2 separate regions of the Homo sapiens genome follow, and region 2 is linked to region 1. The links come from fine-mapping of genetic effects on gene expression. A gene starts in region 1. The other region holds a variant in brackets. All regions are shown on one strand. Distances are from middle to middle.

What was found. PIP is the estimated chance that this variant, and not a neighbour inherited with it, causes the effect. A credible set is the group of variants that fine-mapping cannot tell apart.
Region 2: its variant is the best candidate, but not a certain one, in a credible set for the expression of MAPKBP1 in sun-exposed skin (GTEx, PIP 0.88).

What each region holds. Positions count from the first base shown.
Region 1 is chr15:41,772,457-41,777,765 of GRCh38, reverse strand. MAPKBP1 (mitogen-activated protein kinase binding protein 1) reads right to left here and starts at 3,282. Exons shown (of 31, transcript NM_014994.3): 1 at 3,156-3,282; 2 at 2,377-2,599. The coding sequence starts at 2,490. RefSeq lists an enhancer at 3,786-3,835.
Region 2 is chr15:41,801,058-41,806,429 of GRCh38, reverse strand. All of the region lies in intron 3 of MAPKBP1 (mitogen-activated protein kinase binding protein 1), which reads right to left. Among named protein-coding and RNA genes, the nearest start is that of JMJD7, 24 kb to the left of the region's middle. The variant C/G (reference allele first, on the strand shown) is at 1,966.

The sequences.
Region 1 (5,309 bases):
ATGTTAGAGCAACTCACAGAGCTTAATACACTAGAGTAATCACAAGGCAGGCTTTTAGAATAATCTCAGGTAGAGACCTTTTACTAAGGAGTGTGGGGAGTCTGGCATCTCTAGGGTCCTGGGCGCACAAAGACAGCTACTCCTCTTGGGTGCTAAAGATATGCACCAGTCATTTTGCTGCCAGACCATTCAAGGGTCATTCAACTTCAGCTAAGTATTTCTTTCATACACAGCTTCAGGACAGACAAAGCCATCTAAAGCAGTCTGAAGCACTGAATTCCTATTTTAAACAGGGAATGGTAAATGGTCTTGCCAGGGATGCCCCTTTTCCACTGTTTTCCTGGAGAGCTCTTCTCCACCTGCCTTAGGACTCACAGTTCAAGCATCCCTTCCTCTGTGAAGCCTTTCCTTTTTTTTTTTTTTTTGAGACGGAGTCTTGCTCTGTTACCCAGGCTAGAGTGCACTGGCAGGATCTGAGCTCACTGCAACCTCAGCCTCCCGGGTTCAGGCGAGTCTCCTGCCTCAGCCTCCCGAGTAGCTGGGATTACAGACATGCACCACCACGCCCGGCTAATTTTTGTATTTTTAGTAGAGATGAGGTTTCACCATCTTGACCAGGCTGGTTTCGAACTCCTGACCTAGTGATCCATCCGCCTTGGCCTCCCAAAGTGCTGGGATTACAGGGGTGAGCCACCATGCCTGGCCTGTGAAGCCTTTCCTAATTCCTCTGAACTGACTTAGGTCGCCTCCCCTGTGCTTCCATTAACAACGTACACATACTTCTACAGCAGCACTTACCACACCGTGTTTTAATTGTTTACATGTCTGACTAGCCATAAGCTCTTTGATGGCAAGGGTAATGTTTTACCCATCACTGATTGCACACTTCATAGGCACTCAATAAACACTTGTTAAATGCATTAATAATGGATGATATTGGAAGTCTTAAAGAATGGCAACTATACTTTCTGGATTCCAGACCAAAATTACAGTAAGAATTAACAATGAAGGCTAAACTCTCATTATATGTTTCTACTACATATATCATTCCTGGCCAGAAAAAGAGGCCAAAGATTGGAGAAGATTGCTCTAACAGTGCTGGTCACTGCCAAGCTACCAGCCAAGAATAAGAGCACTTGCAGTATTAAGAATGAACAGAGTCATATCTAAGGCAATTTCTACATTTCAGGCTTCTTTGCCTGCCTCAGGAGAATAGAAACAATGATGAATAAGAGACCTTGGAAGGGTCACAATGTCCACCATCACAAAACCTTGTAGCAAACTGTGATTCAACACAACTTCTGCTGAAATATACAGGAAAGCTCTTCACCTTCTTACCAAATCTACTCAAAGTTCTGCTAAGGAACACAGGGCTGAACTAAGTCCTCCCAGAACCCTGCCATTTGTACAGTGGCATTCTAAATCATTCCTCATGGGATTTACTCATCACTGAAGAGATACAGGCAAAGCAATACAATGCTGTGGTCTCAAATGCCTCTCCCTGTAACAACCTTGTACCTCACAACCCTATTGGGTTTACAGGCTACTAATAAGACACAAAATCTGATCTGATCCTGTGGGAGTAAAGCCCTGGATTCCCTCAAGGGATTAAATAAATGTCGACTACTTCTGGATTCCCAAAGTTGTGGGGTTTATTTAGTTGAAAAAGCATAAGGACCAAAACACAGACAAGTGAAGCGATGGAAAGGAACTTTGCCTCTGAGGATCATCTGCAGCTGAGTGGGATGTGGCTCTTGGCATATAGTGAATGAGATAAGCAATGCTCAAGGGCCATCCAGAACTGTTTTGCTGACAGATATCTGGCTTCTTGCATGTTATTCCTAAGAAGCCAAAAGGCTCCAGTTAGCCTCTTGAAGAGACAAAAAAAATTTGTTTTCACCGTAGGCAAGAGCAATTACCAAGCCAGTAACTCTGACTAGGTGTTTTAGCATATTTCTTTCTGCCACTACAGTCTTACATAACCCCAGCTGTTACGTTAACACCTGCAGCTACATTAGTCACAGCTTAGCCCTTCACAAGGTATGTGTTCCTACTGTCCTCTCCCAAGAAGGGAAACTGAGTCATAGCATATCAACTGGCTTCCCAAGCACATGCTTAGTGTATAGTGAGGCCACAATTGAACCCAGGTGGTCTTCCTACTATTCACCTTTTCTCATGGATGAATCTCAGCATGCCCACCCCTGCTGCTCTTTTTCCTTCAACCTAAAACCAAATCATTGCCTGCAGAGATCATATGTGATCCTTTAGAGTCAACAAGGGCTTCTAGTTATCTTTCCCAAGAAACAGGAAGGTTAACGAGGAACATGGAGCAGGAGAGGGTGGGTTTGGAAAGAGGTGGATCCCAACAGGACTCACCTTGGAGCTGAGGTCCTCTCGTCGGTTTCCTGCCTTACTCCTGCGCAGTTTGATGGATGGAGATCTCAACAGATTCTTGATCCGGCTGGTAATGGTTGACCCTTCCACAGCCATTATGACGAGAAACCCTTTGGGACAGTCCCCGGCCCAGTCCTGGGTCTTGTCTCAACAGCGGCACTGTCTTCCCACTCCAGAGGGCTTCCCAGTATGCCCTCTCACTGACCTGAGATGGCAGAAGCCACCTTAGTATCACAGTGTCTTACCTTCTGCCTAGCGAAGTCTGCAGCTTTTACCTCTGGGTATTGCTCTCACCATTTCCCTCATCCCCACCTTCTAGCCCTGCACAGTTTCTTACAACGTCGGAAGGAAAGGCTCACGAAAAAGGGGGGGAAAATCCTAAGCCACGAAGAAATGCCAGGCCCACGCCCGCCAGAGGCGTTTAACTGGCGAGATGGATGGGATGGGCCCCAGTTGGTCTCGTGGACGATCTGGTTCCCGTTAATGCCCAACTGTTCCCATGGCAACTGTAGTGTCCAAGGGAGGAGGCCGCCGAGACCACCAGGGATTTCCGCAGGCCTGGACACCTGCGCTAGCGCCGGCGGGGACGCGGCGGGGCTCGCCGTAGCCCACAACTCGTTCTGCCACGGGAGCCTCCCTCCCCCACTCCCTATCCTCCAGAGCTCGCTCTCCGCCCTCCACAGCGGCTCTGGACCTTTATCTTTCACCCGCCTCTGAGGCCCCTGCTACTCGTCAGCGCCCCCGTTCGGGCCCAGCCTCACCAGCCTCGGCGAGCTAAGGCCACCCCGCTCACAGCGCCCTCGGGCATCGCGTTCGGCAATTTCAGCTCCGCCGCGGTAGCCGCAGCGGTAGAGGCAGCAGCAGGAGCTATGGTGGCACGATCGGCTCAAAACGCGAACTACCGCCTGGGCCAAGCCGCGGGCTGGGTGGGCGGAGCCGACGCGAGGGGCGCGGCCTGTAGTCAGGAGAGCGCTTCCAGAGTGGACGAGCAAGGTTTACGGGGGCGGAGCCAATGAAAGGGCCCAGGAAGCAGACGGCTTGGGACTAGGGAACCACGGAATCCGCACAATTGCGGGTACCGCTTTTAGAGGAAGGTCAACAGAACATGGCTTCAGAATTGAGAGAACCAAGCCTTTTATGGTATTATCAGGCCTGGTCCCCCATGGAACTGCACTTCCCAGAGCCCCAAGACGATAACCACGCCTCCAGGGTGTTAAGGTTGTCATCTGATAGGCCCGAGGGACCGTAGCTGAAACTCCTAGCTCAGAATTACAAGACTGAGCTACAGCCTAAAAGCTCTGCTCCCAGCGACCACAAGTGTTGAGATTTAAAGCGACTGAAGTAGTTTCTGCTCGCAGCCAGTCCGGCACGTAGACTCAACGTGGAAAGGATTATTCTGAGTAATGCAATTTAATAGCTAAGAACAGTATTTTTGCACTGGGCAACCTGGTCATCATGAAAGGGGAAAGGGTGGCCTTGAACAGAGCTTTGGGCGTGCGGGGGAAAGAGAAGTGAATATGCTATGTTATAATACTTTAGGTTTCATGGCTTCTTTAGCCTCCAACATCCCATTGTGCTTCCTCACCTAAAGCTGACCAGGACTTTGTTGCTCCAGATCTTTTCCTCATTCCATTTACTTATGAATCCTTTTATCTAGGGCTGTTCCTTGCTGAGGTCACTGTCGAGCTTGCTGATACTAGATCGAGGGGTAGTTTTCTAACTCATGTCGGGGGAGGCAGAGGGAATACACGGAAATGTTACATGAAATAGTATTTCCTGAGTATTCTCCACTTGACTACTACCACAAGAAATCACCTTATGAAAAAGCCTAAGCCAGAGACTTGGGTCCCAAGGGAATAGTACACTGGTGTGTCCGTCTCACCCTATCCAGATCTTTTGAATCCCTGTGGAGATGACATGTGTCTGCAAGAGGGAAGAACCTCTAACAAATTATTATACCTTATGAAAAAGCCTAAGCCAAAGACAAGGGACCCAAGGGAGTACTACACTGGTGTGTCTGTCTCACCCTATCCAGATCTTTTGAAACCCTGTGGAGATGACATGTGATAACAAGAGGGAAGAACCCCTAAACTCATTGCTTGTGTACAACGGTGAGCCTTTAGAGCCAAGTGGCAAAGCACATATTTTCTTGTGTATACTGTAGCCACGTACTGAAAATTAGATTTGTAAAGCTCACAAGTTGACATGGAGATGATGGATGTCACCTCCTGGAGACCAACTGGCAATAGCACGTGGCCTTCTTCCCTTCAACCATGCACTGCAAATATTATGAAACAGAAAATACGATTTTCAAATTTATTTCCCAAGTCTGGAAGAAGAAGGCAAGAACCATTAGCTACAATATGCAAGAGGTAGTTGGTTCCTTCAACCTCTTGGTAGTTACATGATGGGACCTCTCCATGGGATTGAAAGCTAATAAATGGTGCCACCTGGTGTCTTTACTTGCATGCTGCAGACCACGGCAGATGCCATCTCCACCCATGAAACTAGAGTAAAAATGTGCCCACAAGAGCCGTCCCTAATCCTCTCCAGATCATTCTGGTGTCCGCTAACGGTTTTCTCACCTGATCACTCATGGCCAGATAAATGGTTTACAAAGTATCACTGGTCATTTCTTTCATGAAAAACAACTGAAAGCATTTTAATGAGGATTTCTTAAGTCTGGAATCTGGGTACTTCCAGTCTTAGGCCAAAGCCACGCTTTTTTTTTTTTTTTTTTTTTTTTTTTAAACAGAGTCTTGCTCTGTCCCCAGACTGGACTGCAGTGGCGATCTCAGCTCACTGCAACCTCCGACTCCTGGTTTCAAGCCATTCTCTTGCCTCAGCCTCCCGAGTAGCTGGGATTACAGGCACGCGCCACCACACCCAGTTAATTTTTGTATTTTTAGTAAAGA
Region 2 (5,372 bases), 29 kb before region 1:
CACAGACACAGGGAGCAGGACACACAAGGTCAACCAGGGACCCTGGGCCTTTGAATTGTTTTCTTTCAGACCAGGTAAAATCTGAGAATGACTCACAGAAGCATGCCAAAGGGGCTTCTGGCCTCGCTCAAATGTCGCCCTCCAGCCCTATTTATCATTACAACCCTACCTCCGTCACTGCTACCGCTTCTACTGTTTCCAAAGCACACATCAATTTGTAATCACGCTTATAACTTACACTGGGGGTGGGGATCCATCTTCACACACCAGACTGCCAGTTCTGTGAGGATGGTATTTTTGGTCTGTTTTACTTACTGTTAATTTCCCAGGGCCTAGACGATAGGCCCTCAGTAATTATTTGTAAACAAGTGAATATGTCTTCAAGTCACTAGGGGCAAGATCTCAAAGCCCTGGCTGCCAAGGAACCTCCTGGGTAGCAGAGTGTGAATGAGGGCCCTGGGGAGAGGTCCATGGTTCTCCTGTACCTCAGGCATTTAGGACTCCTTGATGCTCAAGGGCAGTGTAGAGGTGGAAAGAGCAGAACACTGAGGTCACAGGCCTGTCTGCTAACACACTGCATGATCCTGGGCACCAAGTCCCAACCTTTTCTTCTCTCAGGCCCACCTGGTCTCTCTACTGTCCCTGGCGAATACCCTACAGCAAGTAAGAAGGTAGCTCTGTGTTCCTTCAGCTCAGGTGTCACGAGAACACAGTTCAGGAGGAGAATTCTGTCACACCCAGTGCAATGCTTCAAAGCTGAGGATCTCAGAATCAATTTTAACATGGGCTGAGGAAATGGAGGGCCTCCTCAGGAGAGCAGGGGTTCCCTCTTCTCCTCCCCACTTAAATCAACCAAGAGGTCTCTTCTTAGCTGCCAGATACACCCCGTCACCTTGCTGGGACACTTCCCATCCCAGCGGGAGAGGAGCAGCTGTGCGCAGGGCACTCACCCAGGCCATTCTGGCATAGGAGCCAGGAGAAACCCATTCTCAGGACTGGGCACAGGGGCACAGGGGCACAGGGGCTGTGCTGGGCTTGAAGGCCCATCAACCTTCCACCAGCTGGCTGAGGAAAAGGCCCAACTCAATTAAGGGTGTTCAACTCAATTAAGTCTCTCAAAGGGGCTGTCTGGCATCCTCTAGTAGGGGGGCTTCCCGTGGGGAAACAACGGCCAAGGGATGTAGGAGCCACTAGGACAGGCTCCATGCTCAGCCTGGAGCTCCTACCCACCTCTGCCTGACACACTGCCCACCCTCCTTTCCTGTGCTGTTCCATTTCCTTTCAGAAAACTTTGTTTTGGTTTGATATTCGCCTCCGGGCCTCAGAGAATTTTCTGAGTTTTGTTTCTCTCCTTGTTTCTAGGATACCTGAGCTGGCTCCCAAAGCAACAGGCACAGGAGGAACAAGAGCGTGGGGGCTGGGGGCAGTGTAAGGATGATCAGATAAGAAAAGCAGGGAGACAAGGAGGGAGGTGAAGAACCTGCTTGTGCTCACACAGAATCTGGTGGCCCCCAACATCACAGCAGCACATCAGGGAGTTCTAGAACACAGCAAAACTCAAACACCCAGAAAAGAAGCCATTTGCACAGACAACTTCAAGTTCTAAGAAATCAAAAGGTCAGGGAACAGATTAGGGGCACTGCCCAGGGATGGCCTAAGCCAAGCATACACGCTTAGGAAACCTACTAGAGGTTCCATCAGGAAAGCCTGTACACCATCTGGAAGGATCATGACTCCCAGGCACATGCACTGGGCTGAGACCTGCTCATAAACATGCATAAGCACATGCCCTTAAAGGCCAGGCCTGGAGTCCAGGGGTGTGTGAGGAAGAAAGCGGGCAGGACTCCACACTCTCCAGGGCAGGGACACAGGTCTCAGCATGCACCAAGCAGCACCCCAAGGCCTTTTTTGCCTGTGCTACATCCAGCCCCAGCCCCACCTCCAACAAGAGGGAACCTGGCTTTC[C/G]CAGGCAGAGGCAAGAACAAGTGGAATTCCCCTGAGGCAGGCTGCACAAACTTATCCAGTAGAGAGGTCTTTCCATCAGCTTGCTTCTCTAGGGGAAAATGGAGCCTAGCCCAGCCTTTGCCAGGCAGAGCCCGTGTGGCTCCCACAGCACCCTTACTGCAGCCATTAAACACCAGAGGACCACTTGGGAGAGACACTGACCCCAAACCCAGGGGCAGAAGTCTCCCTTGCACAGACTGAGCTGCCCATAAATGGGGCTCTTCTCATTCAAAGGGCAGGTAGGCAGCTTAGAGGAAAAGCAATTTGTTAAAAATAAGCAGAAAGTGGCCGGGCACAGTGGCTCACACCTGTAATCCCAGCACTTTGGGAGGCCAATGTGGGCAGATCACCTAAGGTCGGGAGTTTGAGACCAGCCTGACCAACATGGAGAAACCCCATCTCTACTAAAAATACAAAATTAGCTGGGCATGATGGCGCATGCCTGTAATCCCAGCTACTCTGGAGGCTGAGGCAGGAGAATTGCTTGAACCCAGGAGGCGGAGGTTGCGGTGAGCTGAGATCGTGCCATTGCACTCCAGCCTGGGCAAGAAGAATGAAACTCTGTCTCAAAAAAAAACAGTGTGGTCTCCCCCTACTCTGTGCCATTTTAACAATCAGAGCTCTACAGTCATACTACTTGGGTTAGAACCCCATTACACACACTAGCTATGTTACCTCAAGCAAACTCCTTAACCCTTTTGGTTTTTTTAAGAGGCAGGGTTTCACTGTGTCACCCAAGCTGGAGTGCAATGGCACGATCATAGTTCACTGCAGCCTTCACCTCCTGGGCTCAAGCAATCCTCCTGCCTCAGCCTCCCCAGTTGCTAGGACTACAGGCACATGCCACCATACCCAGCTAATTTTTTTTATTTTTACTTTTTGGTAGAGACAGGGTTCTCACTATGTTGCCCAGGCTGGTTTCAAATTCTTGGTCTCAAGCAATCCTCCCACCTTGGCTTCCCAAAGCCACTGCACCCTGCCTGCTTAACCTTTTTTTTTTTTTTTTTTTTTTGAGATGGAGTCTTGCTCAGCCGCTCAGGCTGGAGTGCAGTGGCACGATCTCGGCTCACTGCAACCACCGTCTCCCAGGTTCAAGCGATTCTCCCAGCTCAGCCTCCCGAGTAACTGGGACTACCAGCACCCGCCATCACGCCAGGCTAATTTTTGTATTTTGCTAGAGACAAGATTTCACCATGTTGGCCAGGCTGGTCTTGAACTCCTGACCTCAGGTGATCCGCCCACCTTGCCCTCCCAAAGTGCTAGGATTATAGGCGTGAGCCACTGCACTTGGCCTGCTTGACCTCTTTGGATCTCAATTTCCTCCTCTAAAATATGAGGGTGATAATAGTTGCTCAGAGTATTAAATAATTCATATAAAGTGCTTAAAAAGTACCTGGCATAGAATAAGTACAGTCATACGTCACATAATAACATTTTGGTCAACAGCGAAGGGCATGTATGACAGTAGTCCCGTAAGATTATAATGGAGCTAAAATATTCCTGTCACTTAGTGACATCTTGATGATCCTGACCCTATGTAGTTCTATGCGCTAGGCTAATGTGTGTGTTTGTGTCTTTGTTTTTAACAAAAAAGTTTAAAAAGTTAAAAACAACATTTAAAGCTTATAGAAGATAAAAAGAAAATACTTTTGGGTCAGGCACAGTAGCTCATGCCTGTAATGCCAGCACTTTGGGAGGCCAAGGAGGGCTGATCACTTGAGGTCATTAGTTCAAGACCAGCCTGGCCAACATGGCGAAACCCCATCTCTACTAAAAATACAAAAATTAGCCAGGCGTGGTGGCAGGAGCCTGTAATCCCAACTACTCAGGAGGCTGAGGCAGGAGAATCACTTGAACCCAGGAGGCAGAGGTTGCAGTGAGCTAAGATCGTGCCACTGCATTCCAGCCTGGGTGACAGAGGGAGACTCCATCTCGGAAAAAAGATAAAAGAAAGATATTTTTGTATAGCTGTACTGTGTTTGTGTTTTAAGCTAAGTGTTACTACAAGAGTCAAGAAGTTAAAAAAAAAAGTTTATAAAATGTAAGAAAGTTACAGTAAGTTAGGTTAATCTATTATTGAATGTATGTTTTTAAAATAAATTTAGTATGGCCAAGTGTACAGTGTTTGTAAAGTGTACAGTAATGTTTCTGGCACTCACACTCACTCACCACTCACTCACTGACTCACCCAGAACAACTTCCAGTCCTGGAAACTCCATTCATGGTAAGTGCCTTATACAGGTGTGCCTTTTTAAAATATATTTTATATGATATTTTAACCATACTTTTTCTATGTTTAAATATACAAATACCATTGTCTTAGGATTATGTACAGTATTCAGTACAGTAACCTGCTGTGCAGGTTTGTAGCCCAGGCGCAACCGGCTACACCATGTAGCCTAGGTATGTAGTAGGCTATACCATCTAGGGTTTGTGTAAGTATACTCTGTAATGTTCACTCAACAACGAAACTGCCAAATGACACATTTCTCAGAACATATCCCCATCATTAAGTGACACATGACTGTACTTGATTGATAAAGGTAGCTTTTTTTGGTGGTGGCTTGTTTTTTTTTAAGACAGAGTCTCTCTTTGTCGCCCAGGCTGGAGTGCAGTGGCGAAATCTGCACTCACTGCAACCTCCACCTCCTGGGTTCAAGTGATTCTCATGCTTCAGCCTCCCAAGCAGCTGGGACTACCAGCACCCGCCATCACACCCAGCAAATTTTTTTATGTTTTTAGTAGAGACAGGGTTTCAACATGTTGGCCAGGCTGGTCTCCAACTCCTGACCTCAAGTGATCCGCCCACCTTGGCCTCCCAAGGTACTGGGATTATAGGCGTGAGCCACCGGGCCCAGCCTGATAAAGGAAGCTTTTTTGATGAGGTGATAAAACTAAGCAAATCATGTATCTAGTATAAAAACTATAAAAGTTGCTATGAAAATTACATTGGGGAATGAACTAGGCATTAACAAGTTAATGGTAGAGTAAGAAAGGTACAGCAGTAGCGCTACTCATTTTCACATTCCTGTGCCTATCAGCATGGAACAGAGTGAGCCAGAAGCAGGAGGGGTTCCAAGCTTTCTCCAGAAGCCTGAAGAAACTATGGTTGGAGGTTTCCCACTTGTAGGAGCAGAGGAGTGAAAAGGCAGCAAGAGAAAGAATAGTAGCCCCACTCCCCTACTTCTCTTCTATGGCACTGATCTCTCTCAAAGTGACTAGAACAGGCGAATATTCATAATAGCTAAGAAGTAGAAACAACCCAAATGTCCATCAACTGAAGAATAGATAAAATGTGCTACATCCATCCAGTGGAATATTATTCAGCCACAAAAAGGAATAAGGTAGCGATACATGCTGTGACATAG